7 linked regions of the Homo sapiens genome follow. The protein of the gene in region 4 interacts with the protein of the main gene of each other region in a pairwise test. Each region holds a gene or a part of one and is shown on either strand. Other genes may lie near its edges.

Region 1 (4,487 bases), on a different chromosome or scaffold from region 4:
GATGCAAATGAAGAAATTGGGGCAATTTTAATTCAGATAAAATTATTTCATATGAAAGGATAAATACTGGTTTGCTTTATGGCTTATCTTTGATCACTGATTACTGATAAAAATTATTATGGGCAAATGAAAATGGTGGTGCCATTCCCTGAGCTGAAGAATACAAAGAAGGGGCCGGGGTGGGTAGCATTCTGTTCTGGAAATGTGTACATTGAAATGCCTGGAGGTGATCAAATGCAGAGATGTTTGGCAGTAAATAGATCTGGTACTTCAAAGAGATCTCAATAGTCCATCGTCTTCATCTGTAAAAAGAGAAAATAATCTCTACTTCATTAAATCAGTGATTGGTACTATACAATGCGTCACTTTAAAAAATGAGCCTGGGTATTTCTTAGTATTGCAAAACTTATAGCTGGGCACAGTGGCTCATGTGTCTAATCCCAGCACTTTGGGAGGCTGTGGCAGGCAGATTGCTTGAGCTCAAGGAGTTTGAGACCAGCCTGGGCAACATGGGGAAACCCCATCTGTACTAAAAATATAAAAATTAGCTGGACGTGGTGGCGGGTGCCTGTAATCCCAGCTCCTCAGGAGGCTGAGGCAGGAGAATCACTTGAACCTGGGAGGCAGAGGTTGCAGTGAGCCAAGACTGTGCCATTGCACTCTAGCCTGGGCGACAGAGTGACACTCCATCTCAAAAAACAAAAAAACTGTTACAATACTGCATTTGTTAGAATGATTACTTCAAGGTCATCTATTTTGTCCATATTTTATAATCTTATGTTTTATGTATAAAATTTTTTTCAGCTTGAAACGGAGACTTTCTACTCGTTCCTCAATTTTGAATGCAAAGAATCGGAGATTGAGTAGTCAGTTTGAAAATTCAGTTTATAAAGGTGATGATGATGATGAAGATGTCATCATCTTAGAAGAAAACAGTACCCCCAAACCTGCAGTAGATCATGATATTGACATGAAATCAGAACAGAGTCACGTTGAGCAAGGTGGTGTTCAGGTTGAGTTTGTGGGTGACAGTGAACCTTGTGGCCAGACTGGTTCAACAAGCACCTCATCATCCCGATGCGACCAGGGAAATACTGCAGCTACCCAGACTGAAGTACCAAGTTTAGTTGTTAAAAAAGAAGAAACTGTTGAAGACGAGATAGACGTAAGAAATGATGCAGTGATTCTGCCCTCCTGTGTAGAAGCTGAAGCAAAGATACATGAAACCCAGGAAACCACCGATAAATCTGCAGATGATGCAGGCTGCCAATTACAAGAACTGAGAAACCAGCTACTCCTTGTCACTGAGGAAAAAGAGAATTATAAAAGACAGTGTCATATGTTTACTGATCAAATCAAAGTGTTACAACAGAGGATACTAGAAATGAATGACAAGTATGTTAAGAAAGAAACTTGCCATCAGTCCACTGAAACCGATGCTGTATTTTTACTTGAAAGTATTAATGGCAAATCTGAAAGTCCAGACCATATGGTATCTCAGTATCAGCAAGCTTTGGAAGAAATAGAAAGGCTGAAAAAACAATGTAGTGCTTTGCAACATGTAAAGGCTGAATGCAGCCAGTGTTCCAATAATGAGAGTAAAAGTGAAATGGATGAGATGGCTGTGCAGCTTGACGATGTGTTTAGACAACTGGACAAATGCAGTATTGAGAGGGACCAGTATAAAAGTGAGGTGAGTTATATCATCCAACATGTAGTCATGGAGTCCAGGGCCATTTAAACCTTAAGAAGCTGCCAGTTGGCTGGGCGCGGTGGCTCATACCTGTAATCCCACCACTTGGGGAGGCCAAGGCGGGTGGGTCAGTCACTTGAGGTCAAGGAGTTCGAGACCAGCCTGGACAAAATGGTGAAACCCCGTTTCTACTAAAAATACAAAAATTAGCCTAGCGTGGTGGTGGGAGGCTGAGGCAGGAGAATCACTTGAACCCAGGAGGCGGAGGCTGCCGTGAGCCAAGATTGCACCACCACATTCCAGCCTGGGCAACAGAGCGAGACTCTGTCTCAAAAAAAAGCTGCCAATTGCTTGATTGGAATGCTTTCACTTAAAAATAATTCTGTTCTTATTGAGTGTCTGTTATTCTACTGGTTCTCAACTGAGGAGAGGGCCTCCTGGAGGCATATGGAATTGTGTAGGGGCATTTTTGGTTCTTCCAATGTCTTGAGATGTGCATTCCTGAAAAATATTAGGGGTAGCCAGGTATGGTAAATGTCCTGTTCAGAATACCAATATTAACTTAATACCTCATTAATACAGTTAATTATGTTCTTTTTTGGGCATCAATTCTGCTTTTAAGTATAGTTAATCCTTTAGTTATGGAGTCATTCATTTTTCTAGATTATGTCTTTCAAGATTCCTGAGAGAAACTGACTTATCCCTTTTAAAATCTTTGATTAATATACATACATACATATATATATATATATATATATATATATTTTTTTTTTTTTTTTTTTTTTTTTTTTTTTTCTTCTTCTTCTTGAGACAGAATTTCGCTCTGTTGCCCAGGCTGGAGTGAGTGCAGTGGCCCAATCTCGGCTCACTGCAACCTCCACCTCCCGAGTTCAAGCGATTCTCCTGCCTCAGCGTCCCGAGTAGCTGAGATTACAGCACATGCCACCATGCCCGGCTAATTTTTGTCTTTTTATTAGAGACAGGGTTTCACCACATTGGCCAGGCTGATCTCAAACTCCTGACATCAAGTGATCCACCCATCTTGGCCTCCCAAAGTGTTGGAATTACAGGCGTGAGCCCCCATGCCTGGCCTGAGTTGCTTGTGTTCTGACTATCAGAACTGAGTCATCTGGCTAAAGGGTGCCTGGGAAATGCAGTCTTTATGCATGGGTTCTTCTACTGAGAAAGAAGGAGAAAAACGATAAATACCAAGAGACAAATGATAAATATCAGTAGCTTCTTCATATGCCCCTACTTCAAATTCAGGTAGCTCCTTTTAATCTATTTTATACATTTTTGTGTGTGAGGCCTTTGAAAGGATTTTCCTGCTAAAAAGAGTTTGGGAACCATGGTGTGGTGCTGTGCTGTCTCTTCCTTGGGAATATTTGCTACTCATGCAAACACTAATCTTGATGTCTTGGCTCAGGAGTTGAATGACAAAATACAGATGCTCCTCAACTTATGATGGTGTCAGTCCTGAAAAACCCATCATAGGTTGGAAACAGCATTAACTCCAACATTCATTTAATTACAGCCAACCTCCCAAAATCTTAGCCTAGCCTAACCTGCCTTAAAGTGCTCAGAACACTTGTGTTAGCCTACATTTGGGCAAAATCATCTAACACAAAGTCTGGTTTATTACAACATACTGAGTATTTCATGTAATGTATTGAATCTGTGCTGAAAATGAAAAACAGAATGATTGTATTGGTATGCAAAGTGTGGTTTCTATAGAATGCATATAACTTTCACACCATCATAAAGCTGGAAAATCATAAAGTCAAACCGTTGTAAGTCAGGGACCATCTGTTTATAAAAAGCATAAACTCATTATTGTAACTTAATTATAAGCTGATGAGTATGCAAGAAATAAAAACCACTGTGACATTAACATAATTTAGGCATTAGTATCTTGGTTTTTCTGTTTTGTTTTGTTTTGTTTTTTTTTTTTTTTGAGATGGAACTTCGCTCTTGTTGCCCAGGCTGGAGTGCAATGGCGTGATCTCAGCTCACCGCAACCTCCACCTCCTGGGTTCAAGCAGTTCTCCTGCCTCAGCCTCCCGAGTAGCTGAGATTACAGGCGGCTGCCATCACACCCAGCTAATTTTGTATTTTTTGTAGAGATGGGGTTTCTCCATTTTGGTCAGGCTGGTCTTAAACTCCTGATCTCAGGTGATCTGCCCACCTCAGCCTCCCAAAGTGCTGGGATTATAGGCGTGAGCCACCATGCCCGGCTGGTTTTTCATTTTCTAGGTACCACTTTTTTTTTTAAATCAAGTGGTAATATGTTGTATTCTCTCAGTGTAAAAAGATGTAGAAGTGAAGCTGTAAACGAATGAAGCCTTGTTTATAGAAAACTACTGGTTTTTCTTTGTGTATTTGTTTTTTGATAGTTGATAATGTTATCAAGCAGGTTCTCTATATTAGCTTGAAATTTCACTTTGCCATTAGTATTTTTAAGTTTTACAGTTATAAAGCTCATTTATATTTTTGTTAGGTTGAATTGCTGGAAATGGAAAAGTCACAAATCCGTTCACAGTGTGAAGAACTCAAAACTGAAGTAGAACAGTTAAAATCTACAAATCAACAGACGGCAACAGATGTTTCAACATCAAGTAACATTGAGGAGTCTGTAAATCATATGGATGGAGAAAGGTAATATTAAATGAGGCGTTTTTGTGGGGCTGCAATTATGGTTAGGATACTATTTATTTTTATCTGCTAGCACCCATCAAATAGATACTGTTCTGTCAAAAGAAGTTATTGATGGTCTGCTGTGACCCTGGTGTTATGA
Region 2 (3,861 bases), on a different chromosome or scaffold from region 4:
TGAAACTACAGTTTTAGAGAAAACTTGTAAATCACTGTGTTGAGGAGGGGAGAGGAGTGTGAGAGAGATGCTATAGCAAATCAGAGAAGTTGGCTGGGCACCATGGCTCACGTCTGTAATCCCAGCACTTTGGGAGGCCGAGGTGGGCAGATCGCTTGAGACCAGCCTGGGCAACATGGTGTGAAACCCCATCTCTACAAAAAATAGAAAAATTAGCTGGGCGTGGTGGCAGGCACTTGTAGTCCCAGCTACCCGGGAGGCTGAGGTGGGAGCATCACTTGAGCCAGGAGGTCGAGGCTGCAGTGAGCTGAGATTGCATCACTGCTCTCCAGCCTGGGTGACAGCAAGAACCTGTCTCAGAAAAAAATAAAAAATCAGAGAAGTCATAGAGTAGGTTGTTTGGGAAACAAAGGCAAATGACCCCAATAAAGGTTCCTGGCAGCTCTAGCCTGCGGAGTTTATGACATTCCCAGCAAGCTGCTCTCTATTCTACAGAAACCTGGTGATTAACTGGCCTATTTGGAGGATTCTTTCTGTATCATAAATAGGATCCCAGCACTTTGGGAGGCCGAGGCAGGAGAATCACTTGAGCCTAGGTGTTTGAGACCAGCTTGAGCAACATAGTGAGACCCTATCTTCACAAAAAGTAAAATATTAGCCAGGCGTGGTGGCGCTTGCCTGTAGTCCCAGCTACTCAGGAGGCTGAGGTGGGAGGATCACTTGAGCCTGGGACGGGAGGTCAAGGCTGCAGTGAGCTGTGGTCATTCCACTAGGCTCCAGCCAGGGCGACAGAGCAAAACCCCATCTAAGAAAAGGAAGAAAAAGAAAAAGATTTCCCTGAGTGCAACCACATTATATTCTAACATGTTGATTTCTTTCTGTTTCTAGCTGATTATATAGTCATGCAGTTTGGACGTGTGGCAGATGACGTGTTCACACTGGATTACAACTACCCACTTTGTGCAGTACAGGCCTTTGGCATCGGTCTTTCTAGCTTTGACAGTAAGCTGGCGTGTGAATGAGAGAACAGTCAGGCAGGGAGCCCTTCTCCCCACAGAGCTTTCAGGAGCAGACAGTGGCCTCCCCTTCCCCTCCCTGCCCCAGGACTTAAAGAGCAATAGTTTGCCCCTTTTGGAATGATCTCTGAATATATAAAACACACACACAAAGAGCAATAGTTTGCCCCTTTTGGAACGACCCCTGAATATATAAAACACACACACGAAGAGCAATAGTTTGCCCCTTTTGGAACGACCCCTGAATATATAAAACACACACGAAGAGCAATAGTTTGCCCCTTTTGGAACGACCCCTGAATATATAAAACACACACACGAAGAGCAATAGTTTGCCCCTTTTGGAACGACCCCTGAATATATAAAACACACACACACCCCGCGCACTCTCACTCCTTTTCCAGGTTTCATAGACTTGGTGAGGGATCACAGCTTAGCATGGGTGAGAGATGATTTAAAGCACAGGGAGATTCTTGTCACATTGGGGTCTCCAAAGCTAGAATGGGATTTCATGTGCTTGGAAACTTGCAGTAGAATCAGGGACTGACATCGCAGTTCCTCTCCTCTCTTCATTCCCTCACAGCAGATTGGCCGGCACCAATCTTAGTCAAGAGTGGCTGTGATCACATTTGTGATCAATTATGTGAGAATTTTATATAATTGTCTTCATTTCAATTAAGGCTGAAAGCATAAACTCTAGAGGTGACTCAGTCAGGACTGACAGTAATGTGATAATTGCCTTCATTTTCAACCCAGGAGTGCCTCTCACAGCTATATGACTACGGATCCATTAGTGAGGAGCGACACACACACCTGTAGGCATCCTGTGCAAACACTTTGTCATTATCAAGAGAGATGGCAGTATTGACCATTTAGTTTAGTTAAAAAAAAAAAAAAAAAGGTGGCAGGAGAGGCTTTGGGGAGGATCAGCCAGCAGACATGAGCACTGCTGGCCCGTGTGGCAGAGCTGTGGACTTTCTTCTCGGCTCCCTCAACCCTGGCTCAGGCACAGAAGGTGTTTTGCTACGTTTTTTTGATTATTACACCCCTCCACGTATTATGTGACTCTTACACCAGTTCACCCTTCCCAGAATGTATCCAAACCTTGAGAATGCAGGAGCTCTGTGAGCTCCACCGTCAGCACCATTCAGCTGCATCCCTTGTGCACAGAACTGTTTGCCAGCGTTGGGTGGGACACCCGTGGCGGCTGCTCCCTCAGACCTCCCTTCTGTGGACTGACCTCTCACCTCCGCCTGTTGTTCCTGCACCACATCAGATAAGCATGTGAAGGAGGGCCAACTGGCAGCTGCGGGACCCTTGGCTTGTCCCCCACCGACAAGTCCCACCTGCTGGGTGAGGACGAGACTGTTTCCATCTCAGGCATGTATCCCACCAAGTGCCTCCCTCACAGCCATGCCCAGAAGCCTCACACCTCGTCACCACCACCACCCCCCACCCCATCCTGAGGCACTGCCTGGCAGATAACCCTGGTTGGCCACAGAAGCTATTAATACACGACAGCATGTGGGGAAGGACTTATGGTGGGCCAGGTGGACCTCATCCTGCTTCTTCCTCCCTCTGGTTTAAAGAGATATATAAACTAATTTCACATAATTTGTGTGTGCAGGTGATTGGTTTTTACATAAGTCCTATTTATACCTTTTATATGTTACAGAAATAAAAGTTAATTTATATAAAAATGTGTCACTGCCTTTGCAAGTCCTATGCCTCAGGAAGTTCCTACTGTCATGTTATATAATCATAATTGTCATCTTGGGCCACGTGCAGTGGCTCACGCCTATAATCCCAGCACTTTGGGAGGTTGTGGCAGGCGGATCACCTGAGGCCAGGAGTTGGAGACCAGCCTGGCCAACACGGCAAAACCCTATCTCTACTAAAAATACCAAAATTAGCTAGGTGTGGTGGTGCATGTCTGTAATCCCAGCTACTCAGGAGGCTGAGGCATGAGAATCACTTGAACCTGGGAGGCTGAGGTTGCAGTGAGCAGAGATCACACCATTGCACGCCACCCTGGGCCACAGAGTGAGACCCTCGCCTCAAAAAAAGAAAAAAAAATGTTTTGGTAACACATCAGTTCTGTAAAACCAGGTGATTACTAACAAACTTCTCATCCTGATGTAGAGCAGGAATCTGCAGACTAAGAAGGCTGTGTTCCGGAGGCTACCTAGACACACTATACACATGATAGCCAGGGGCATCTGGACAGAGGACGGGACCGAGAGCTGAGCTTAGCAAGGCCACAGAGGGTAGAGTGTACATTCTTTGCATGCCTGCCCAGGTCCGCTTCCCAGGTTTGTTCTTGTTGGCATTGTTTACTGGTTCAGCAGCAACACAAATGAACTATCTCATAGACCCCATCGCTTGCCTCTGAATGTTAACGTTTTGTTTGTTTTTTGAGACGAAGTCTTGCTTTATCACCCAGGCTGGAGTGCAGTGGGCATGACCTCGGCTCACTGCAACCTCTGCCTCCCAGGTTTCAGCAATTCTCCTGCCTCAGCCTCCTGAGAAGCTGGGACTACAGGCGTGCGCTACTACACCCAGCTAATTTTTGTATTTTAAGTGGAGAAGAGGTTTCACCATGTTGGCCACGCTGGTCTCGCCTTGGCCTCCAAAAGTGCCAGGATTACAGGCATGAGCCACTGCACCCGGCCTTTTTTTTTTTTTTTTTTTTTTTTTTTTGAGACGGAGTCTGGCTCTGTTGCCAGGCTGGAGTGGAGTGGGGTGATATTGGCTTACTGCAACCTCTGCCTCCTGGGTTCAAGCAACTCTCCTGCCTCAGCCTCCCGAGTAGGTGGGACTACAGGCGTAAGCCACTGCGCTCGGC
Region 3 (4,487 bases), on a different chromosome or scaffold from region 4:
TTTTTTTTTTTTGAGGGGGGTTTCACTGTGTCACCCAGGCTGGAGTGCAGTGGCTCTATCACAACACACTGCAGCCTTGACCTCCTGGGCTTAAGCGATCCTCCCACCTCAGCCTTACGAGTAGCTGGGACCACAAGTGTGTACCACCATGCCTGGCTAATTTGATTGATTGATTGATTGAGAGAGACAGGGTCTTCCTATGTTGCCCAGCCTGATCTTGAACTCCTAGGCTCACGCAATCCTCCTGCCTTGGTCCCCGAAAATGGGGGATTATAGGCATGAGCCATGGTGCCTGGCCAAAAATCTTTATCTTTAAAGATATTTAATACTTTTTTTCTGAATAATTTTTCTATGTGCCCTAAGCTAGCCAGCCTCTTAATTATGTTACTATGTGTTTGTGTGTGTAAATACATTACACAGAGTTTGAGTTTGATTATTGAATTTTCATATTGTTTTTATAACTTAATTTATGCTGTTATCTTTATGAAGAATGCTGAAAATAAGTGAATTTTATAACTTGTAAAGTGTGGCTTTAAATATTCCGTATTCTTATGAGAACGCAAATAACTTAGCCCATAAAGCACAGAAGAAAATCTTATACGTTTGAGTTATAAAGCTTTCTGCTTGCTCCTTGAAAATATTGCTTAATGATTCTGTAATGACAGGCCATGGTAACTTAAAATGGATGTGTCATTTACTATTCCTTTGTGCTTCAAAGCTTTAAGATGGTTAACTTAGAGTGCCAAGTAAATCTTAAGGCTCTCTGAATAGTGAGAAACTTTATTCTGATTATTTAAAGGTCATTGCAGGACTGGGTATCAAAACAATATTTGCGGGGGTAAAATAGTATGCAAATTTTTTAAGGTTATGTTTTCATACTGCTTTTTTTAACTTAAAATTCTAAGTTCTGAAAATTGAACTTTTTCTTACATAGGCAAATAGAGTATGAGGTTTTGTTTCAATATCTGCAATAGCTGGATCTAATGTATGCTAATTCCAAACTTACCAAAACTAGCGTTGCAAGTAAGGAGAAAAATCTGTTTCTTCAGATTTTCACAATTCAAAATATGAATGAAGATGGGGAATCTAACAAGTGCCATAAAAAACATTAGAATATATTAACTATGTATTTGATATTTAAAGTTGTTTTATACTTTACTTTTTTTTTTTCTTTGAGACGGAGTTTCACTCTTGTTGCCCAGGCTGGCATGATCTCAGCTCACGCAACGTCCACCTCCCGGGTTCAAGCAGTTCTCCTGCCTCAGTCTCCCAAGTAGTTGAGATTACAGGTGCCCACCACCACCACGCCTGGCTAATTTTTTGTATTTTTAGTAGAGAAGGGGTTTCGCCACGTTGGCCAGGCTGGTCTCAAACTCCTGACCTCAGGTGATCCGCCCACCTCGGCGTCCCAAAGTGCTGGGATTACCACCACCCCTGGCCAAAAACTGTTTTATACTTTCTATAATAATATAACCAAATTTTGATTACTAGAGCTATATAATTCTTTAGAACACTTTGTGGGCATTATATTTCTTTTCCATATTTATAACAAGAGTTTTGGACTGTTAATATGTGATTCCTTACATTGATAAAGCACTTTATGCTAATTCATTAGTTACAAAACAACTACGAACTATGATCTCAGCTTTCAAGGAGTTTGTAGTGTAGAGATAAATATGCAGTATATTAAAACAGGGAGATGGTTTGGGGAACATAGACTTATTTAGTGCTAGGCACTTCAGCATAGCATTAAACTCCTATAATCCTCACAATAGCCTTTTTGTTGTTGTTGTCTCTTTCGTTTTCAAGTTGGTGTGCCAGGACTACCAGCCTCAGTAGACTTTGTTGTGGAATTCTTTTATTTTTAGCCCCAGGACCACTGCTTAGGGCCAGGTTTGCTCAATATCCTCCTTGTATTTCCTGTGATGCCCAGCATCTAGTCAGCCTCTAAAGAAGTGGTATCTGTGATGATGATGATGCTGGCTCCTAGTTATTTAAGGAGTTAATCAAGATGGGGAAAGAATAGTCCCCACAACTCAAGTGGTTGCATTTTAAGAACACTTTCTGGATTTGTCAAGGGACTTTTTCTTCCCTAATCTGGATAGACCCCTTCGTTTCTTCTTATTCTCAAAGCTGGCCTATATTTAGGAAGGGGGAGGAAGTGGTCAATACAAAAACACAAAAAGTATTGGAAGAGTTGAAGAGTCGATGACCTGGAGACAGGGCCTTACATAGGACCTGTCTGTCCTATACAGGATGGAATTTCTTTGAATTTGTTAGCAGATGCTCTTTTCTTGTGACTGTTTCATTTTTTTAAATAACAGATAAATATAAGATGAAATTAAGGGTGAAAAGTTATGTGTATATGTGTATGTGTAAGTTAGAGTTAATGGTGTAAAAAAATGGCACGGCATGGTGGCTCATGCCTGTAATCCTAGCACCTTGGGAGGCTGAGGCAGGCGGATCACTTGAAGTCAGGAGTTTGAGACCAACCTGGCTAACATGGTAAAACCCTGTCTCTACTAAAAATACAAAAATTAGCCGGGTGTGGTGGCGGGCTCCTGTAGTCCCAGCTACTCGGGAGGCTGAGGCAGGAGAATCGCTTGAACCCAGGAGGGAGAGGTTGCAGTGGGCCGAGATCACGCCACTGCACTCCAGCCTGGGTGACAGAGTAAGACTCTGTCTCAAAAAAAAAAAAAAAAGAAGATGCTAGTTTGAGTCATAAGAATTCAGAGGAGGAAGAGGCAGCCTAGGCTGGGCTGCCCTGGAACGACTTGAAGAGGTGGGAGTTGAGCTAGGCCTGAGGGTATAGATGGGATTCACTTTCAGATGAGTTGATAAGACTGGGAGGATACATTCATGGGGCTGGGAACACGTATAATATGTGAATATGTGTGATGAGTAATACTAACTAGGCTTGTTAGTGATGGTTCTGTAGAAAATGCTAGGATGATGGGAGGTGAGTCTAGGAATGCTGTTTGGAACCATACTGTGTCCGGTCTTTGAATGTCAGGCTGAGGTTTTTATTTTCCGGGCAAGCCTTTGCAGATGTTTTTTAGTATAGCGTTAATTATGCAACATGAAGGTTTTAGGGAGATTTCAATACAGGCAGCATGGATTGGACAGGAGCAAAGTGGGAATCAAGGAGACCATTTCTGAGTCTGTTGCCATAATTGGGTAGTTACTTGAACTAAGTTTGTGGCAGCGGGAATGGAAAGGAAAGGCCATTGATCAAAGATGTTAAAGACGAGCTGACAGGCCTTAGGAGTCTTGCTGAGCAAGGAGGTTGACAGAAAAAAAGAGGTCAAAAGCTCCTCAAAGCCTTTGTGTCTGAGTGTCTACAAGAATGATGATGAGACCCTTGACCGGAATAAAGGAGTAGGTGTGGGAGGGGGAGCCCCAGGTGGACATATTAATGGTGGTTTGGTTTTTGAGCTGCTTGAGAGGACATAGCATTTCAGGTGGCTAAAATCCGACTTTCACAAAGGACTCCTGACATTATCTTTTTACTCCCCTCAAAAAGCAAACACAACCCACTCCCCTATCCTATCTCAGCTACCTAAATGACTATCTAGCTATTTATAGATTCAGGCTGGGAATTTCATATTCATCCATCTAATTATTCATTCAACAAATGCTTATTGAATATTTACTGTGTGCCAAGTGCTTTAAGCTTTATGAATGAAACAGACATGGACACTACTCTTAAGAACTTTATAGTTGAATTAGTGGGGGAGCCAGTAATAAAATAATCATGCAAATATGTAAGATAGACTGTGATAAATGCTATGAAGAATATCTAATGTTTTGACTACGTATATTGAAAGGCCTTAGCCCGTTGTGGGGGTTGCTGGGAGAGGCATTTCTCACAGTTAAGCTCCAAACCCCTGCAGAGTGGATCAGAATAGAGCAGTGTAAAGTCACTGGAAAGATGAAGAATAAATAGCCTCCTGGTCTTGAGATTGGACCACAACCTGAGTGAAAGCATTGCTATATATAAAGAAAGACTTGGGGGATGGGGTTGGTATGGTATGGCAATTTATGAAAAGGAGAAAGCTGCTGCAGAAGCTGCTCTTTATCATCCAATAGATAACAATGTTTAGCCAACTGATTTTAATGATTATCTCAGTCCCAGTGGCAAGGTCTTCCAATTAGTCACTCACTCATGTGTTCTTCCAATTCTCTTGAATACATTTTGAACTCATAGTTGTGTGCCTTAGTGATTAGTGTACATCAGTAAATGAAATAAACCAAAAAATTCTGCCCGTCTGGGGAGTGGGATGATGGGGGAGAGAATGTCAAAGTAAACAATAAATAAGTACATTTTATAGTATGTTAGACTACACATAAATCCTCTAAGCAAAAAGTCTACTTTTTAAGTCTACTTTGGTTTCAAGAAAACAAGGAAATATATTACTGAAGTCTGTACTATCGTGATTAGTATGGAAGAAGTGAATGTAGACTAAATTTTAAAATACTGAAATCAG
Region 4 (4,487 bases):
TGCGAGTATACATGTTTTTTAACAAGTTGAAAATGTTTCATCTGAACCTTTCCTAACTTTTTTTTGCCAGTTTGAGTTCAAATCAAATACACCTTAAGTTCTGGTTTCATGTTCTCTTGAAACATTGAATTGTACGTAAATATAAAGGATCTACTGTTGCGGAAAATTAAGAAGCTAAATACTGCTCAGTTATCTTTGCCTGCGTGTATATTTTTAAAAATTCACTCTGAAGTGTTATGGATGCTTTTCTTTGAGTTCTAAATTTTGGTGGGAATTACTTTATGTCTCCCAGTTAAGAAGAGTCTCCATTTTCCAGAAAATACAGCTAAGCAAGAAAAATATCTTTTAAATACTTTGCCTTTAAAACACTTTTTTATTTTGTTTTTCTATTTTAAAAATAAAATATTATTTTCTGAATTTCTTCTATTGGGTAATCCAGTTAGACCATATTCCTCTACAAATAAAAACTATGTTGATTTCATAGTAAAGTAAGTTGTAATAGAGATAATTATTTTTTTCTGTTGTTAGCTGCTTATGAAACTTTTATTGTATTTTTTTAAAGTTATGCTACTCCTGGCCGGGCATGGTGGCTCACGCCTGTAATCCCAGCACTTTGGGAGGCCGAGGCACGTGGATCACTTGATGTCAGGAGTTCGAGACCAGCCTGGCTAACATGGTGAAACCCTGTCTCCAGTACAAATACAATAATTAGCTGGGTGTGGTGGCGCACACCTGTAATCCCAGCTACTTGGGAGGCTGAGGCAGGAGAATCACTTGAACCTGGGAGGCGGAGGTTGCAGTGAGCTGAGATGGCATCACTGCACTCCAGCCTGGGTGACAGGGTGACACTCCACCTCAAAAAATAAAAATAAAATAAAAATAAAGTTATGCTACTCCTAAACCACTTAATATATGTTTTGTGGTTTTCAAAATTATGTAATCAGCCCTGAAACACATTGGTTGAAAATATTTTGAGACTTTATAAGTTAGTATTTATTAAATTAATATTATTTTAATAAGTTTTGTTAAATCCTAGTTTAAATGACAAAGCTGTGTATAGAGTAGGGGTGAGTGAAGGTGGAGTACTCTTGAGGTGGCGATAAAAATGTACCCATAAATTTAAAGTCCATTCTGTAATTGGAATACTGAATGTCCTGTGTGTGGTGAACATTTTCTAGGTGATTAGAATTGCATTTCACTGGCTGCATTTGTTTGTGGTATGTAAGATAGCTAGAAATTTATTACTTAACTCTGTGGGGCATTGTTTAGATACTGTGAAGAGTTGAGGTAAATATGTGTCTTGTAAAAGCTTTGTGTGATCAGAATATTTTGGTAATTATAAAATGTTTTTGATGATACACATTTAACTCTGTTAGTAATTACTCTAAAGAAATCTTAATTTTACCAGTTTAAAAAAAACGCTTCTTTTTAAAAGTTCATGTTTCTAACCTTTAACAATTCAGTTAATAGGAAAGGAGTAACTTTTAAATCAAGCTTTAAAACATGGAAATTTAAGCCAGTATGTTAGATATTTTTTCTATCCCACCCTACCATGATAATAAAAATAAATCTATAAAAAGTCAAAATAAAAAGCCGATCTATAAAAAGTCAATTGAGAAGTTCTAAAAGCAGGCTACTATAGCAGGGGTGTTTGTTTTTTGTTTGGAGACGGAGTCTGGCTCTATTACCTAGGCTGGAGTGCAGTGGGACAATCTCGGCTCACTGTAACCTCTGTCTCTTCAGCCTCCTGAGTTGCTGGAACTACAGCTGTATGCCATCATGCTCGGCTAATTTTTGTATTTTTTTGTAGAGATGGGGTTTTGCCATGTTGCCCGGGCCTGTCTTGAACTCCTAGAGCTTAAGTGATCCACCCGCCTCAGGCTCCCGAAGTGCTGGGATTACAGGCATGATTATAGGCCTGAGCCACCACACCCCGCCTACTATAGCAGTTTTTTAAAAAAAGCATTATGTTAAAACTGATTATACCAGATGGACATTAAATATCCATCTCAGAAATACCAAAATTTGATACATAAGCCTGGCCTGAATATCTTTTTTTTTTTTTTGAGACGGAGTCTTACTCTGTCGCCCAGGCTGGAGTGCAGTGGCGCGATCTCGGCTCACTGCAACCTCTGCCTCCTGGGTTCAAGGGATTCTCCTGCCTCAGCCTCTTGAGTAGCTGGGATTACAGGTTTGCGCCACCACACCCAGCTAATTTTTGTATTTTTTTTTTAGTAGAGACCGGGTTTCACCATGTTGGCCAGGCTGGTCTCACCTGACTTTGTGATCCGCCCGCCTCAGCCTCCCAAAGTGCTGGGATTACAGGTGTGAGCCACCACGCCTGGCCTCAAGCCTGGTCTGAATATCTATATGCAAATATGGGACACTGACTTCAGAGCTATTCATTTAGCTCCAGTCATAGCAATTCTGTAGTTTCCTCACATTTACTGTGTCTTTGTCCACAAATGAAATATGTTGTAAGGTCAGTGTTAATTTCGTGAGACGATATAGATGAACACACTTGCTCATTTTTTGAAATAAATATGCAGATTTAAAATGAGTGGCACATATATATAAATAGGTTATTGAATGGGTATTCTCTTTTCCCTTTAATTTAAAAAGTGATATTTATTTATTAAAAGGAGCATTGGTAGAATTATTGGTTTATAGTATCTTCTTTAATAATCCTTACAATTACATATACTAATAGGATGTTAAAATTATCATCGTGTTTCCTATTTGTGTTTAGATTCTTATAAAGCATGAGATGAGTAATCAAGGGAAGGGTCGCATCTCCATGTTTGCCCCATGAATAGAATCCATTTGACAAGCCATTTCATTTCCTTTCTGGAGAAAGGGAGTTGTTTTTTTTTTCTTTTTACAGCAAAAATTTAAGGTTTTATTGGGGGAGGGGGTGGTGCTACTTCCTCTGTAACATGTTTTTAAAACTATGATTATGGTTTTTGGTTGTTTTTTGTTTTGTTTGTTTCCTTTTAGTCTGTTTTTAATATCCTTCCCCTTAACTCTTAAGGAAAGTCTTCTTTCCTACAGGGCTGTGAATTAAGGAATGGGTAGCGTTTACATTTAAGTACACCAATGTCTGCCCAATTTCCTAATGTATACATTTGTTTTATTTTAAATTATTTTTTGTTCTTAAAAATACTAGAAGAAAACATAGATGTTTCTAGTGCCTTTGAACTTATACTGTAGTCTGACTAATTTAATGAATAACTTCAGTAGCATTACTATAATACTGTATGCTGGCCAAAATTACAAATTACAGTTTGTTGCATCAGTTTCAAAAGCCATGCTTTCATTGTATTTTATGTATAAATTGTATTTGTTCAAGTTGTATATATTGGTATTGTATGTATACATGCAGCATGGTTAAATAAGAATAAAAATCTTTTACCTAATGCCTGTAGTAGTGGTCTGCTGCTTTTCTCAACTATCTTTGTGGTTACTTCCACCCTGATATTAATGAGCAGGTTCTTTGTGCTTGGCATCTCAATTTGTGGTTAAGAGAGGCCTGTGTAGTTTCACACCCAGAAACGCTTAATGTTGTGGGTCTTTTAAGCAGAAATCATGAAGCAAATCTGGGAGAGATGTTATTTACATCTTTAAACTTTTAGGTTTGGCGGTACATGTGAAGGTTTGTTACATAGGTAAACACATCTCATGGGGTTTTGTTGTACAGATTATTTCATCACCCAGGTATTAAGCCCAATACCCAATAGTTATCTTTTCTGCTCTTCTCCCTTCTCTCATCCTCTCCCCTCAAGTAGACTCCAGTGTCTGTTGTTTCCTTCTTCGTGTTCATAAGATCTTATCATTTGGCTCCCACTTATAAGTGACAACATGCGGTATTTGGTTTTCTGTTCCTATGTTAGTTTGCTAAGGATAATAGCCTCTAGCTCTATCCATGTTCCCACAAAAGACATGATCTCATTCATTTTTATGGCTGCATAATATTCCATGGTGTATATGTACCACATTTTCTTCATCCAATCTGTCATTGATGGACATTTAGTTTGATTCTTTGGAGAAACTTTTTTTTTAATTAAATTTTATTTTATTTTATTTTAAATTTTATTTTATTTTATTTTATTTTATTTATTATTTTATTTTATTTATCTTATTTTTTGAGACAGAGTTTTGCTCTTGTTGCCCGGGCTGGAGTGCAGTGGCACAGTCTTAGCTCACTGCAACCTCCACCTCCTGGATTCAAGCAATTCTCCTGCCTCAGCCTCCTGAGTAGCTGGGATTACAGGCATGCACCACCATGCCTGGCTAATTTTGTATTTTTAGTAGAGATGGAATTTCACCATGTTGTTCAGGCTGGTCTCGAACTCCTGACCTCAGGTGATCCACCCGCCTCAGCCTCCCAAAGTGCTGGGATTACAGGCCTGAGCTACTGTGCCCAGCTGGAGAAATGTTTTTAAATGTGCTTCTTCTCATTGATAAACTGTATTTTTCACCAAAAATAC
Region 5 (4,487 bases), on a different chromosome or scaffold from region 4:
TTGAACTCCTGACCTCATGATCTGCCCGCCTCAGCCTCCCAAAGTGCTGGGATTGCAGGCGTGAGCCACCGCGCCCAGCCTACTGCATTGTTTTTGTTGTTATATTTTCTTCTTCTTTTTTTTTATGGTGATAAAATATACATAACATAAAATTTGCCATTTTAACCATTTTAAAGTATTCAATTCAGTGGTATGAATTATATTCACAATGTTGTATAGCCATCACCTGTGTCTACTTCCAAAACTTTTTCATTATCCCAAACAGAAACTCTGAAACCATCAAGCAATTACTCCCCATTTCCCCTCTCCCAGCCCTTGGTAACGTCGACTCTACTTTCTGTCTCTATAAATTTGCCTGGTCTAGATGTTTCACATAAGCGGAATGATAAATTATTTGTCCTTTTTTGTCTGGCTTAATTCACTGGGGATGATGTCTTCGAGGTTCATCCATGTTTAGCATGCATCAGCACACTGCATTCTTTGTAATCGCTATAAATTATTTCATTGTACGAATGTAGGACAATTTATATAATGAACCGATATACATATCCCATATTGAAAATTGTGCCAAATATGTCATGGTTAACAACTGTCTGAGGCTGGTGCACAGGGGAATAAAATAATTTACCAAAACAGCATTGAGTTTAGAAAGGCAGATTTATTTAGAGAAAAGGGGGAGATACATTGAAAGGGAGCAATGGGTGAGACAGCAGAAAGAAGACTGTCTGCAAAGAGGCAGGAGCTGGAGGTGGAGTTTTCTAAGGTTGTGCTGCTTGAGCTGAATGCTTGCAGACAGGATGCCTGGGTGCAGGTGGACTGTGAGTTGAGTGCTTGTAACAGGATGCTTGAGTGCTAGTGAGCTGTTTGTGGTTGACCCTATTTCTCAGAACGTTCGCTCCCCACTGCTGTTGTTTCTGTTTCTGCTAGTGACGCCCATTTTTCAATGTTTTTTTCTTTTCTTTTTTTTTTTTTTTTTTGAGTCAAAGTCTTGCATTGTCGCCCAGGCTGGGGTGCAGCGGCCTGATCTCAGCTCACTGCAAGCTCCACCTCCCGGGCTCAAGTGATTCTCAAGCCTCAGCCTCCCAAGTAGCTGGGATTACAGACACCTACCACTACACTTGCCCAATTCTATTCTCTATGTGTAGAAGCTATATACTGAGAATCTTGGTACACAAATCTTCATGCACATGTGAAAGCATTTTCTAGGATATAAGTAAAGTAAGAGGAATTGCTGCATGAAAGAATAAATGTATTTAAAACTTTGAGGCCAGGTGCAGTGGCTCATGCCTGTAATCCAGCACTTTGGGGGACCAAGGCAGGCAGATCACCTGAGGTCAGGAGTTCAAGACCCAGCCTGGCCAACAGTGACTCCCTGTCTCTGCTAAAAATACAAAAATTAGCCAGGCATGGTGATGGCCACCTGCAGTCCCAGCTACACGGCTGAGGCAGGAGAATCGCTTGTACCCGGGAAGCGGAGGTTGCAGTGAGCCGAGATCTTGCCATTGCACTCCAGCCTAGGCGACAAGAGCAAAACTTCGTCTGAAAAAAAAAAAAAAATTGATAGCTATTGTCGTATTGTCCTCTAAAAGCGAAGTACCAATAGACCCTACCACCCACAGTTTATATAAATGCCCTACTTCACATACCCTTACAGACTGTATTTCAGTCTCTTAAAAGTCTTCCAATCTAATGATCAAAAACTATTTTCTGGGCTGGGCATGGTGTCTCATGCCTGTAATCTCAGCATTTTGGGAGGCTGAGGCAGGTGGATCACCTGAGGTCAGAAGTTCAAGACCAGCCTGACCAACATGGTGAAACTCCGTCTCTACTAAAAATACAAAATTACCTATGTGTGGTGGTGCGTGCTTGTAATCCCAGCTACTCAGGAGGCTGAGGCAGGAGAATCGCTTGAACCTGGGAGGCAGTGGTTGCTGTGAGCCAAGATCGCACCACTGCACTCAGCCTGGACAAGAGTGAAACTCCTTCTCAAAAAATAAAAATAAATAAATAAATAAATAAAAATTGTTTTGTATTTCATCTAATTGATTTATTCTTTGGGCTTTATGTACAGTGTTTTAGTTTAACTGGACCTTCTCTTTTGTTTGTTTTCCTTAACCTTTCATTGTGGAAAATCTCATATTATTTTAATTATTTTTACTTTTATATTTTTAGTACAAAAAATACAAAAATTTGTTCTAAAATGCCACTGTTACACCACACATACACATACATACATTTCCATATATAATTTGAGTTCTTTTAAAAGCTCTTTATTTTGTACTTTTGACCTCTTATCTATGCTTGAGCCACATGGTTTTAGATCCTGTAGATTTATTGTTTTGTTATCAGATAAGGCAGATAAGGCAGATAACCTCTTATCAGTTTTCTCTTTATTGATTTTTTTAAAGCAATTTTGGCTTTTCTTATGCTTATTCTCTCTCCTAATGATTTAATAATTTTTAATCAGCATGTTAAGATTTTGATTAGAATTTCATCAAATTTATAGACTAATTTAGAGACAAATAGTGACTTTATAGTAATCAACCCTCCCAGTCACGAATATGGTTTTGTATTAGGTATATTTCCACATATTTTGCTATTTTTTCTCCCATTTTCAAAAGGATCTTTATTTCTCCGTGCATTTTACGATCGGTGATGGGCTGGTGCTTAGGAAAGCTTTGGTTTTTATAAGTTGATCTTGTGTCTGACTGGCCACTTTACTGAACTCACATTTCAGACGTTATGATTTTTTTCATGTTGATTATTCTGGATTTCCTGGTTGGCAGACATGTCATCTGCAACTGGTTTTTCTGTTTTTAGGCTAATGCAGAGTCAAGTAAAACCTGGCTGAAGGGGAAATTCACTGAACTCAGATTACTACTTGACGAAGAGGAAGCGCTGGCCAAGAAATTCATTGATAAAAACACGCAGCTTACCCTCCAGGTGTACAGGGAACAAGCTGACTCTTGCAGAGAGCAACTTGACATCATGAATGATCTCTCCAACAGGGTCTGGAGTATCAGCCAGGAGCCCGATCCTGTCCAGAGGCTTCAGGTAATGCTGGGGTCACTGCTCTTACTGCTGCCACCTGCCACCCACACTTCATCTCAAGTATTGTGGCATTGAGCACAGTATTGACACACTAAGCAAGTACATGGACTATTGTCTTGTCACCATGTAGACTGTCTTGCCCCCACACAGGTGGTCAAGAGAATATACATTGTTAGGAAGATAATACACCTCTTGGGCTAATTAAATAATATTAACAGCCACCAATTTCAAAGGCCCCTGTGTCCTGAGCACTGTGTAGTTTAGCACTAATATTCACCAGAACTCTGCAAAGTGGGCTCACCCCATTTTATAAACAAGAAATTGAGGCTCAGTGAAGTGACTCACCTGGTCTCACACAGCAGGTAGGTAGCAGAGCTGGTATCAGGTCTGGCTGTCTGTCTAGGTCTGTCTGACTCTAAACCCACAAGGGACCCTGCCTGGCCCTCTGACTGTACAGTCTTTTTTTTTTTTTTTTTTTTTTGAGATGGAGTTTCTCTCTTGTTGCCCAGGCCGGAGTACAGTGGTGCGATCTCAGCTCACCACAACCTCTGCCTCCTGGGTTCAAGCAGTTCTCCTGGCTCAGCCTCCTGAGTAGCTGGGATTACAGGCATGTGCCACCATGCGTGGCTAATTTTGTATTTTTAGTAGAGACAGGGTTTCTCCACGTTGGTCAGGCTGGTCTTGAACTCCTGACCTCAGGTGATCCGCCCACCTCAGCCTCCCAAAGTGCTGGGATTATAGGTGTGAGCCACCGCAATCAGCCTGCCTTTATAGTCTTAAATTGAGACACCCCACCTGAAAAGGCAGGTGTCCTTGCAGCTACTGAGCACATTTCAAAGGCTGAGTCACAGCTGGCTCAATGGTACTCCTTGGCCACTGGGCTTTGTTGAGGAAGAGTCTAAGAAATAGCCCCTGTGGCAGATCACTTGAGGCCAGAAGTTTGAGACCAGCCTGACCAACATGGCAAAACCACCTCTCTACTAAAAATACAAATATCAGCCAGGCGTGATGGCGTGCACCTGTGAGGCTGAGGTGGGAGAATCACTTGAATCGGGGAGGCAAAGATTGCAGTGAGTAACGAGATCATGCCACTGCACTCCAGGCCGGGTAACAGAGTGAGACTCTGTCTCAAAAAAAAGAAAAGAACTAGCCCCAGGGATAGTCATTGCTACATTTAGAGAAAGCATGTTGTTGAGGATGGTGTTCCTGTCTACTTTTTTCTTTTTTTTTGAGACGGAGTCTTGCTCTGTCGCCCAGGCTGGAGTGCAGTGGTGTGATCTCGGCTTACAGCAAGCTCCACCTCCCACCATTCTCCTGCCTCAGCCTCCCGAGTAGCTGGGACTACAGGCGCCCCCCACCACGCCCAGCTAATTTTTTGTATTTTTTAGTAGAGATGGGGTTTCACCATGTTAGCCAGGATGGTCTCCATCTCCTGA
Region 6 (4,487 bases), on a different chromosome or scaffold from region 4:
AAACATACACACACACACACACACACACACACACACACACACACACACACACACACACACACACACACCCCTGGACTGAATTGGGAGTTCCCTGGCGGCATTGGCTGGGGGCCTCATCCTTAAGTGAATCGGGGAACCTGCAGCGTTGGTAAGAGCCATTGATTGGTGTGGTGCTATCACTCCTGTTGCCTGGAACATGCTAAACTTGCTTATTTTACTGCCATTTGATAGCAAAGATTTAATTTCACTCTGTAAAACTCCCCCGACTCAAGTAGTTTATTTTGCAGCTAGAGATCCATTATTGCATTAGGCTTTACCCAGTTAGAGTCAGTGTTAGCTTTGTTTTGCCTGCAAACCTCTGATTACTGTCAAATTGAATTAGATGTCTCCCTTTGCTGATCACTGATTGACTTTTCCTTAATTTCCCATTCATTTTTTTTCCCCATTTCAGTTGTTATAGATGAAGTCGATTAAATGGTTTTGTGTAATCAAGAACGGCATTCCATTTCAGTATTATCAACTTGTAAGTATGGAGCTTGTAAGTCAGGGGGTGGATGAAAACAAGCTGATAATGAGCTGGTATTTGAAAATTGAGAGGGAGCTTAATAGGAAACCTTCTCCAAGGTGAGGTAGCTTAAGGGCTCAGGGTTTTCATGGAGGGAACCTTGATGGCAGAACTTGGGAATCAAGGTGTCAGATGATGGTAGGGCACACACCAGGGGTGTTAGTTTCCTGCAGCTGCTGTAACAAATGACCACAAACTTGGTGGCTTAAAACAACAGAAAGTGATTCCCTCACAGTCTGGAGGCTGGAAGTCCAAAATCAGTCTCATTGGAGATCAAGGTGTCAGTAGGGCCACGCTTCCTCCAGAGACCTAAGGGGAGACTTGGACTTTGCTTCTTCTCCCAGCCCCTGGTGGCTGCCATGGGCATCTCCTGGGCTTGTGGCCATGTTATTCTCTTGTCTCCGTCTTCACTTTGCTTTCTTCTCTGCTTGTCCATCTGATCCCCTCCGTCTTTTAAAGACATTTTTGATGGCATTTAGGACTCACCCAGTTAATCCAGGACAGCCTCCCCATCTGAAGACCATTAACTTCATCATGTCTGCAGAGTCCCATCCCCCTAAAGATGACATTTTCAGGTTCCAGGGATTAGGATGTGGGCCTATCTTTGGGAGGCCATTTTTCGACTTACCACACTGGGCCTGCTTCACGGAAGGCCTTGGTACGACGGCCCAAGGCCTGGGCTGGACTGAGTGGTATGAGGTTGAGGGGCTGGACTGAGCGGTATGAGGAGGAGGGGCTGGACTGAGCGGTATGAGGAGGAGGGGCTGGACTGAGCGGTATGAGGAGGAGGGGCTGGACTGAGCGGTATGAGGATGAGGGGCTGGACTGAGCGGTATGAGGAGGAGGGGCTGGACTGAGCGGTATGAGGATGAGGGGCTGGACTGAGCGGTATGAGGAGGAGGGGCTGGACTGAGCGGTATGAGGTTGAGGGGCTGGACTGAGCGGTATGAGGAGGAGGGGCTGGAATGAGTGGTATGAGGATGAGGGGCTGGATGGGGTTTCCAGGGGGTATTTCCCCAGCACCATAGATCACCTCATTGCCTTGTCCTTTCACCTTCAGGAAAGGGAGGAGGATGGGCTAGAGAAAGAGCAAGAAGTGAGAGAGTGGGGAGAAATGCTTGGAAATACTGCATTTGCACAGAAGTTGGAAGGTACAGGAAGAACTGCCTAAAGAAAAGCCTAGCATGCACCCTTAAGCCTGGCATGTGGGAACCAACACCAATTGTTAGGATGACTGTAATCGTACGGCTGTGATAATGAGGTCTAGATTCATGGAAAGAGCCACCTGGGCTGTCCTTTCTGTTCAGAGTGGTCTGCAGTGTAGACACTTGCTAACCAATTGTGGAGCTTCATAGGGTCCTATTTTGACATAGCTCATGGAGGTGCAAAACCCTGATATGGGCTGGTTCAGCCCTGGGAGTGGAGCCTGAGAGGGAGTTCGTGAAGACTCTGCTCTCCGTGGGTCTCATGGACGTGCGGGAGCAGAGGGGACGGTGGAGTCAATGAGGAATTGTCAGAGGCTCCTGAGACTACGCTGAAGGGCTAGAGTGAGGAGGAGAGAGAGGCTGCCGGTGAAAGGTGGCGTCATTCCCCACTGCCAAGGAGGGTCTCTCCATGCCTGGAAATGCGTCCCAAAGGGCATCAGATAGATTCCTTATATTTTCAGGGAAGCTATTTGTTCCTTGTGGCTGCTATAACAAATTACCACTCTGGTGGCTTAAAGTAACAAATTGATTCTCTCACAGTTCTGGAGGCCAGAAGTCTTAAAAAGTATTGGCAGGGCCACGCTCCCTCCAGAGACTCTAGGGGAGGATCCTTCCCTGCCTCTTCTGGCTTCCAGTGGCAGCCAACATTCCTTGGCTTGTCGCCCCTCACCCCAATGTCTGCCTCCTTCCTCCTGTGGCTGCCCCCTCTGCTTATTTGTGTGAAAACTCCTTCTTTCTCTATTTTATAAGGACACTTATGAGGACATTTAGGGCCTACCCAGGTAATCTAGGCTAATCTCATCTCAGAATTCTTCACTTAATAACTTCTGCAAAGACCCTTTTTCCAAATAAAGTCACATGATCCAGAGATTAGGCCATTATTCAACCTGGTACAGGCAATTGAAGAACTCAATAAGGTATCTTAACTATAATTGTGTACTCTGTTAAAAAGGCAGATTGTATTACTGCTGGGCCTTTAGACTTGTTTGTTTACAGTACTTGTAAGAATTTCATTGCCAGAGGGTGTAATTTTTTAGATACTGCCACACGGAGTGGAGCAAAGACAATGCCTAATTGTACTTTTCAGCATTCTTTTTTCTCCACCTCCCCAAGAGGATGGATATGAAATATGTGTGTGTCTATGTGTTTTTGGAGGGTAACAGTTAACAAAGCTGTTAGTTTAGCATCCCTTGAACTACTTGGGGCCAGACACAGCCAGAGTGTAACTTTACCTCCTGGGGGCTGAGAGCATCAGCCCGAGCTGACTTGAGGTAGTGCAGGCCCCATGCTGTGAGGTGTGGATGGCAGGGGCTCTTCTAGCCTGTCTGGTCCCCTTGGGGGCTGATTGACTCTTTGTTACTCCCATCTTTGGATTAAGGGCCTGAACCTCCCTATTAAAATGAGACTCTGGGCTGGGCACGGTGGCTCATTCCTATAATCCCCGCACTTGGGGAGGCCAAGGTGGGCGGATCACTTGAGGCCAGGAGTTTGAGACTAGCCTGGCCAACATGGCCAAACCCTGTCTCTACTAAAAATACAAAAATTAGCTGGATGTGGTGGCGGGTGCCTGTAATCCCAGCTACTCAGGAGGCTGAGGCAGGAGAATTGCTTGAACCCGGGAGGCAGAGGTTGCAGGGAGCCGCCAAGATTGTGCCACTGCATTCCAGCCTGGGCCACAGAGCGAGATTCCATCTCAAAAAAAAAAAAAAAAAAAAAAAAAAAAGAAGGAGACACTGCTCTATAGAGGAGATAATACATTATGCTGTTTATAGCCATCTTTGCTTTGGTGATTCCATTGGTTAGTCACTATTAGTCACTTGCTGTTTATGAAGCGCTGTGTGTCGTGAAGGGGGAGTGGTCCCTGCATTAAGCCATGACTTACATCTTACTGCAGATGCTGTTGTATAGGGACGTAGGGAAGGAAGGTGCGGGGGAGTCTCTCTGGTAGGGAGGTTAGCCTCTGAAGGACCTGGGGTTGGGGGCTTGAGTGGGGGAAGGGGGTGGCTGGAGTACCTGGAGAGTGATAGAATGCATGTCCCAGGGAGTGACAAGACATGCCAGGAGGGAGAGCTGGGAGGAGTTGGGACCGGGTGGTGGTGGGGCTGATGGAGAAGATGCTTGGGTGCTCCCATAGGCAGCAGTGAGACCTCAAGAGCTTCTGCAAGAAATCAGAGTTCTAGACCCACTGATTTGGAGGCAGAGTGTAGAATGAATTCAAGAGGCCAGGAGGAGCCTCAAGAAGAGGTGACATCCATGCCTTAGTTCACCCTGGGGGTGGCCAGACTTTTATTGATTCGTTCACTATTTTGTTTAATTTAAAGTTTGCCTTTAGTTTGGACTTTTTCCCTTTTTTGTTTTCTTTTTGTTTTTTAAGGTTTTCTTCAGCTTTATTGAGGTTTAACTGACAGATAACCGCGTGTGCTTATAGTATGCAGGTTATGATAAGTGAGCATGTTGTGAAATGGTTACCATGGTCAAGCTCATGGACATGTCCATTACCTGACAGGGTTATCAGTTTTGTGTGTGTCTTGAGAACATTAAAAAATCTCTCAGCAATTTTCTTTCTTTTTTTTTGAGATGGAGTTTTGTTCTTGTTGCCCAGGCTGGAGTGCAATGGCACAATCTCTGCTCACTGCAACCTCTACCTCCCAGGTTCAAGCGATTCTCCTGCCTCAGCCTCCTGAGTAGCTGGGATTCCAGGCGTCCACCACCACACC
Region 7 (4,487 bases), on a different chromosome or scaffold from region 4:
TGGAAAAGATAGATGGGAATGTTATTTATAAAGCAATGAGGAAAGCAGCCAAGCCTTCCGAGAGAGGCCTGAGAGCAGGCCACTGAACACTCCGTATTTAGAGGAAAGACAGAGAAAAGGATCCAGTCAAGGAAAGTGAGAAAGGGTGGCCAGAAATGTAGGCAGAGATCTGGAAGACCACAGTGCCCTGGCAGCTGAAAGGGCCAACAACAAAAATATCAACGGCATCAAATGCTATAGTAATGCAGGTAGGAAGAGGACGAAGAGGAAACCAGAGAATTTGGCAATGAGAGGTCAGGGTGACCTTTCAGTAGCTGATGGTGAAAGAAGCTGTGTCAGTTCAGGTTTTTGAGAAGCGCCTAGCAAGACAGATTAGACACACAAGGAATTTATTGGGGAAATTCTTGTGAAGAAGGAAGCAAAAGGAAGCAGGAGGTGGCAAGGAGAGTCTGGAGACCATAACAGAGGTCCGACACCTGTGAGAGGAGAAGGCGAAGGAGGGATTGGTTGGAGGCACGTCAGGCTGCGGTGCACTTCTGAGAAGGCTGCAGTGAGGCTGATGGGGTATCCCTGAGCAAAGGATGCCTGTTAGGGAGATCCTGCATCGGGCGGGGACGGCCATGAGAAAAGCCCTGTCACGCTTGTCATTGGCTTGCAGCATCCCAGAGAACACATGCCTCCCTTCCTGCAGCAGATGCTCTTGGTTTTTTTGTTTTGGTTTGGGTTTTTTGTTTGTTTTGTTTTGTTTTGTTTTGTTTTGTTTGAGTCTTGCTCTGTCACCCAGGCTGGAGTGCAGTGGCATAATCTCAGCTCACTGCAACCTCCTCCTCCCGGGTTCAAGCGATTCTCCTGCCTCAGTGTCCCCAGTACTGGGACTACAGGCGCCCACCATCATGCTTGGCTAGTTTTTGTATTTTTAGTAGAGAGGGGGTTTTGCCATGTTGGCCTGGCTGGTCTTGAACTCCTGACCTCAGGTGATCCTTCCGCCTCGGCCTCCCGAAGTTCTAGGATTACAGGCATGAGGCACACCGTGCCCAGCCAGCAGATGCTCTTGAAGGAGACCTGAGGTTATGTTTGCGTGGCACCACAGAAGCCAGAGTGACCATAAGCAGGAAGTAGAAACACTAGAATTCTGGTCTAAGCTGCTGTCATCTCTATACACAGCATGGCTGAAACAGAAGAGCCACGCAGAAGTTAGCAGGTAGGCAGGGCCTGGTAAGAAGGCCATAAGCTGTGGCGCTTTCACCCAAAGCCATCATGAAGACCCATAACTAAGTGGCTGGCCAAGGTCACAAGGTTTCATAGAATTGCCAGGACGAGAGCCAGCTGTCCATCTTCGCTTGGCGTCCCTGGCTCTCTCCTCAAACCCTGTGCTCTCCCTGTACTTCCAATCACATGCGGGGTTTGGTCTATCACCGTTCGTACCCAGTGGACACTGATGCCTTTGATGTATGTTTTTCTTTCAACGATGGTGTGTTGAAGGATTCTGTTACCTCCATTCCTCCATTTCTGTACAAGTAAGTTAATACAAGTAAGTAAGTACTGTAGGAAAATGAGCTCCTCCCGCGCCCAGGGAGGAGGTAGGAGGACGATTCCACCTGTCTTTGTGGTGAGCGCTGAAGGAGGATCTTGAGAAAGGCACCTGTGTGCAGCGGCATTCTCATCTCTAAAGCCCGCATGGCTTCCCGTGTGCACACAGGACATTCTGCCCATGTTTACCAAATGAAGACACCAACTAACTACCCTGTCTTTCCTTCTAGGTGACCTCATACATTTGCCTCCATACCTTAGAATGGACTTTTTGTTAAACCGAGGTGGTCCAGGCACCAGCAGGGACCTGAGCTTAGGACAAGCATGCTTGGAACCTCAGAAAAGCCGGACCCTGAAGCGCCCCACGGTCCTGGAGCCCATCCCGATGGAAGCCGCCTCCTCCGCCTCCTCCACGAGAGAAGGACAGTCGTGGCAGCCGGGGGCCGTGGCCACATTACCTCAGCGGGAGGGAGCAGAGCTGGGACAGGCAGCTAAAATGAGCAGCTCCCAAGAATCACTGCTCGACTCCCGGGGCCATTTGAAAGGAAACAATCCTTACGCAAAATCTTACACCCTGGTATAACAGACAGCATGACTGGACAGCGGTTGTAAATACAATTCAAACAATTCAATCAAAGCTACCTTTTTTTTACGGAATTCCAATATTTATAATTAAAGAAAATTGCCAAAATATATTAAAAAAAAAAAAGAGAAAATACTGAAACCACAGACAGTGCAAAGACTCTCCTGCTTTTTTTCTGTCTGAGTGTGAGCTCCATCCGCCTGGGCATCTGATTTTTTGGGAAAGAAGTCCAGTTTTATGATCTTCACAGGCTATTGCATTTTTACTGATTTTCTACAAAAGTGCATGGGGGGGATTAATTAAACCTTCTGACTGGAAGTTCTATCACACAAGAGGCAAGAAAGAAAACAGGGTGGGTGGGAAATCAGCCTATTTGTGAATTTAAAAGGAACACCGATTTGCGGGCAGGGGAAAACTTCAGTCACGTTTGCACACCTTTCTTTCCCATTAGAAACCGGGTTCTCAATTTGGTCTTCTTTTGTTGTTAATTAGGATGAGTGCCGTCAGTGAAGGGGTGGGGGGAATCAATTTGGTTTTCTCTCTTGTTTCTTTTTTAATTTAATGAGACACTCTTTGCATTTTGTCTAAGCGAAATAAAAAAGAAAAGGTTGTCTGCCTTTATTTCCATGTCTGCTTCTCTCGTCTTCTGCCAGTGGCCTGGTCCTCCTTCCCATTGACACTTCTGTTTGGAAACACCAGGCCTGAACCCAGAGCCCAATTCAATAAACCAGAGTCGATACTAACACCCTGAACTCCTCAGGAATCTCCAGGAAGCACAAAGAAGGTGCAGCTCCTGCTCTCAAGCTGGAGAGGACAAAATGCAGGCTGGTCTCCACCGCAACCAGAGGCCAGCCCAAGTATTCGAAGCCCGTCGCAAAGCTCTGCCCCTTGCCTGCCCATGGCCAGAGTTCAACTGACTGTGGCCTATGGGCCAAATCCAGCCTCCTGCTGTTTTTTAAATAAAGTTTTATTGAAACAAGGCCACATGCACTATTTGCTATTGTCTATGGCTGCTTTCATGGCACAATGGTAGAGCTGAATAGTTGCAGCAGAGATGGTATAGCCCATGAAGCCTAAAATATTTATTACCTGGCCCATTACAGGAAACATTTGCCAGACCCGTGCTCTGGAGTCTGAAATGTAGCCCCAGCTTGCGTGACAAGGGGCAAGATCGTGCATCTTACCCTCCATGACTTTTCCTATCTCCACTATGCCTGGTATGCAAATTTGTGATAGACCATCTTAATAAACATTGCCTGAATCCTCTGTAACCAGAGGAAAGTGATGTTCCTCTAAAATCTAAGTTTTTACTTTCCTTTCCCTCACTTTATCTCCCATGTGGCTCATCCTAAGAGAGAATTTACTCATAAATAGTCGGAACTGCATTCTTTATCCCACAACCCTCACAGGGTTTGCTTTATGAAAGAGGATGTAATCCTCCCCTGGCTGCAACACTCCATTCCAGGCTCACTTCCATAAAATGGAAAGATAAACAGGTCTTTGTGTCAGAGATTTGGCATTAACCAGAAAACATGATCAAATATCCACAGCTGCTCAGTCTCCCAGGCTGAAGATTCTCTACAGGCTTCCATTAAGGCCACCAACATAGACTGGTGCCAGTTATTACCATCTTGGGAACATATTCAGAAATGTCTTTCCTTCCCTCCCTCCCTCCTTCTTTCCCATCCTTTCTTCCTTCTATTTATTTTCCAGGCAGGCCCATTTGTCTGCTTAGATTCAGTGACACAGAATGGGTCCAGGACCATGTCAAGACCACCTGCTGATGCTAGTGTTAGATGACTCCAGGAATGTGAGGTGTGCATCCATGGTTTCAGAATGTAATCCGTGTTGACGTGTACTGTTTGCATACTCTCAGACTGTTTTTTTTTTATGCAAAAGAAATGTTACTTTCTGGGGGAAAAAATTAAAAGTCTATCTTTCATCAACCTAAAACTTCTATATCCCCCAAACATAGAAGTTTACCTTTTTAACATTTTTCTCTCAACCTGTACAAAAATAAAAAAATTCTACATTATGTCTGCCTCTAGAATGGATTGCTTTCAAGACTCCTGCCTTAAAAATACTCATTAAAATCAGTTTAACACACAAACAATTGTCTCAAAAGATCACCTCCTTCCAGTTCAGATAGGGGTCTATTATTGCTGTCTTCAAGGGGCTGCAGATTAAAGGGTAGTGTATACTAAAACGACTGTTATTGACAGTAATAATAATTAATCTTCCTCTAGACCTCTACCTGTCTGATTTGTTTTGTGGAAGTCACCGTATTAGCCCAAATCTGCACACAGATTATTCTATGTTGGAATGGTGAAACTCAAATAAATTCTCTATCCTCTGGTCAATATCTATAGGGTAC

What was found.
Region 1: the proteins of KIF3A (region 4) and MORC3 interact in a two-hybrid assay, tested with the Homo sapiens proteins (one large-scale study listed by BioGRID and IntAct).
Region 2: the proteins of KIF3A (region 4) and TULP3 interact in a two-hybrid assay, tested with the Homo sapiens proteins (one large-scale study listed by BioGRID and IntAct).
Region 3: the proteins of KIF3A (region 4) and PLEKHA5 interact in a two-hybrid assay, tested with the Homo sapiens proteins (one large-scale study listed by BioGRID and IntAct).
Region 5: the proteins of KIF3A (region 4) and TRIM14 interact in a two-hybrid assay, tested with the Homo sapiens proteins (one large-scale study listed by BioGRID).
Region 6: the proteins of KIF3A (region 4) and HUNK interact in a two-hybrid assay, tested with the Homo sapiens proteins (one large-scale study listed by BioGRID and IntAct).
Region 7: the proteins of KIF3A (region 4) and DSCAM interact in a two-hybrid assay, tested with the Homo sapiens proteins (one large-scale study listed by BioGRID and IntAct).

Annotation. Positions count from the first base shown.
Region 1 is NC_000021.9:36,368,184-36,372,670, forward strand, and holds part of MORC3 (MORC family CW-type zinc finger protein 3), read left to right. Parts: intron 1-804; coding exon 805-1,693; intron 1,694-4,190; coding exon 4,191-4,348; intron 4,349-4,487.
Region 2 is NC_000012.12:2,938,423-2,942,283, forward strand, and holds the end of TULP3 (tubby-related protein 3), read left to right. Parts: intron 1-888; coding exon 889-1,022; 3' UTR 1,023-2,107; coding exon of another isoform or gene 2,108-2,304; 3' UTR 2,305-2,716; downstream 2,717-3,861. UniProt on the Homo sapiens protein: Negative regulator of the Shh signaling transduction pathway: recruited to primary cilia via association with the IFT complex A (IFT-A) and is required for recruitment of G protein-coupled receptor GPR161 to cilia, a promoter of PKA-dependent basal repression machinery in Shh signaling.
Region 3 is NC_000012.12:19,135,887-19,140,373, forward strand, and holds part of PLEKHA5 (pleckstrin homology domain-containing family A member 5), read left to right. Parts: intron 1-4,487.
Region 4 is NC_000005.10:132,691,560-132,696,046, reverse strand, and holds the end of KIF3A (kinesin-like protein KIF3A), read left to right. Parts: 3' UTR 1-3,416; downstream 3,417-4,487. UniProt on the Homo sapiens protein: Microtubule-based anterograde translocator for membranous organelles. Plus end-directed microtubule sliding activity in vitro. Plays a role in primary cilia formation. Plays a role in centriole cohesion and subdistal appendage organization and function.
Region 5 is NC_000009.12:98,098,498-98,102,984, reverse strand, and holds part of TRIM14 (tripartite motif-containing protein 14), read left to right. Parts: intron 1-2,820; coding exon 2,821-3,054; intron 3,055-4,487.
Region 6 is NC_000021.9:31,917,690-31,922,176, forward strand, and holds part of HUNK (hormonally up-regulated neu tumor-associated kinase), read left to right. Parts: intron 1-4,487.
Region 7 is NC_000021.9:40,010,660-40,015,146, reverse strand, and holds the end of DSCAM (cell adhesion molecule DSCAM isoform CHD2-42 precursor), read left to right. Parts: intron 1-1,760; coding exon 1,761-2,113; 3' UTR 2,114-4,148; downstream 4,149-4,487. UniProt on the Homo sapiens protein: Cell adhesion molecule that plays a role in neuronal self-avoidance. Promotes repulsion between specific neuronal processes of either the same cell or the same subtype of cells.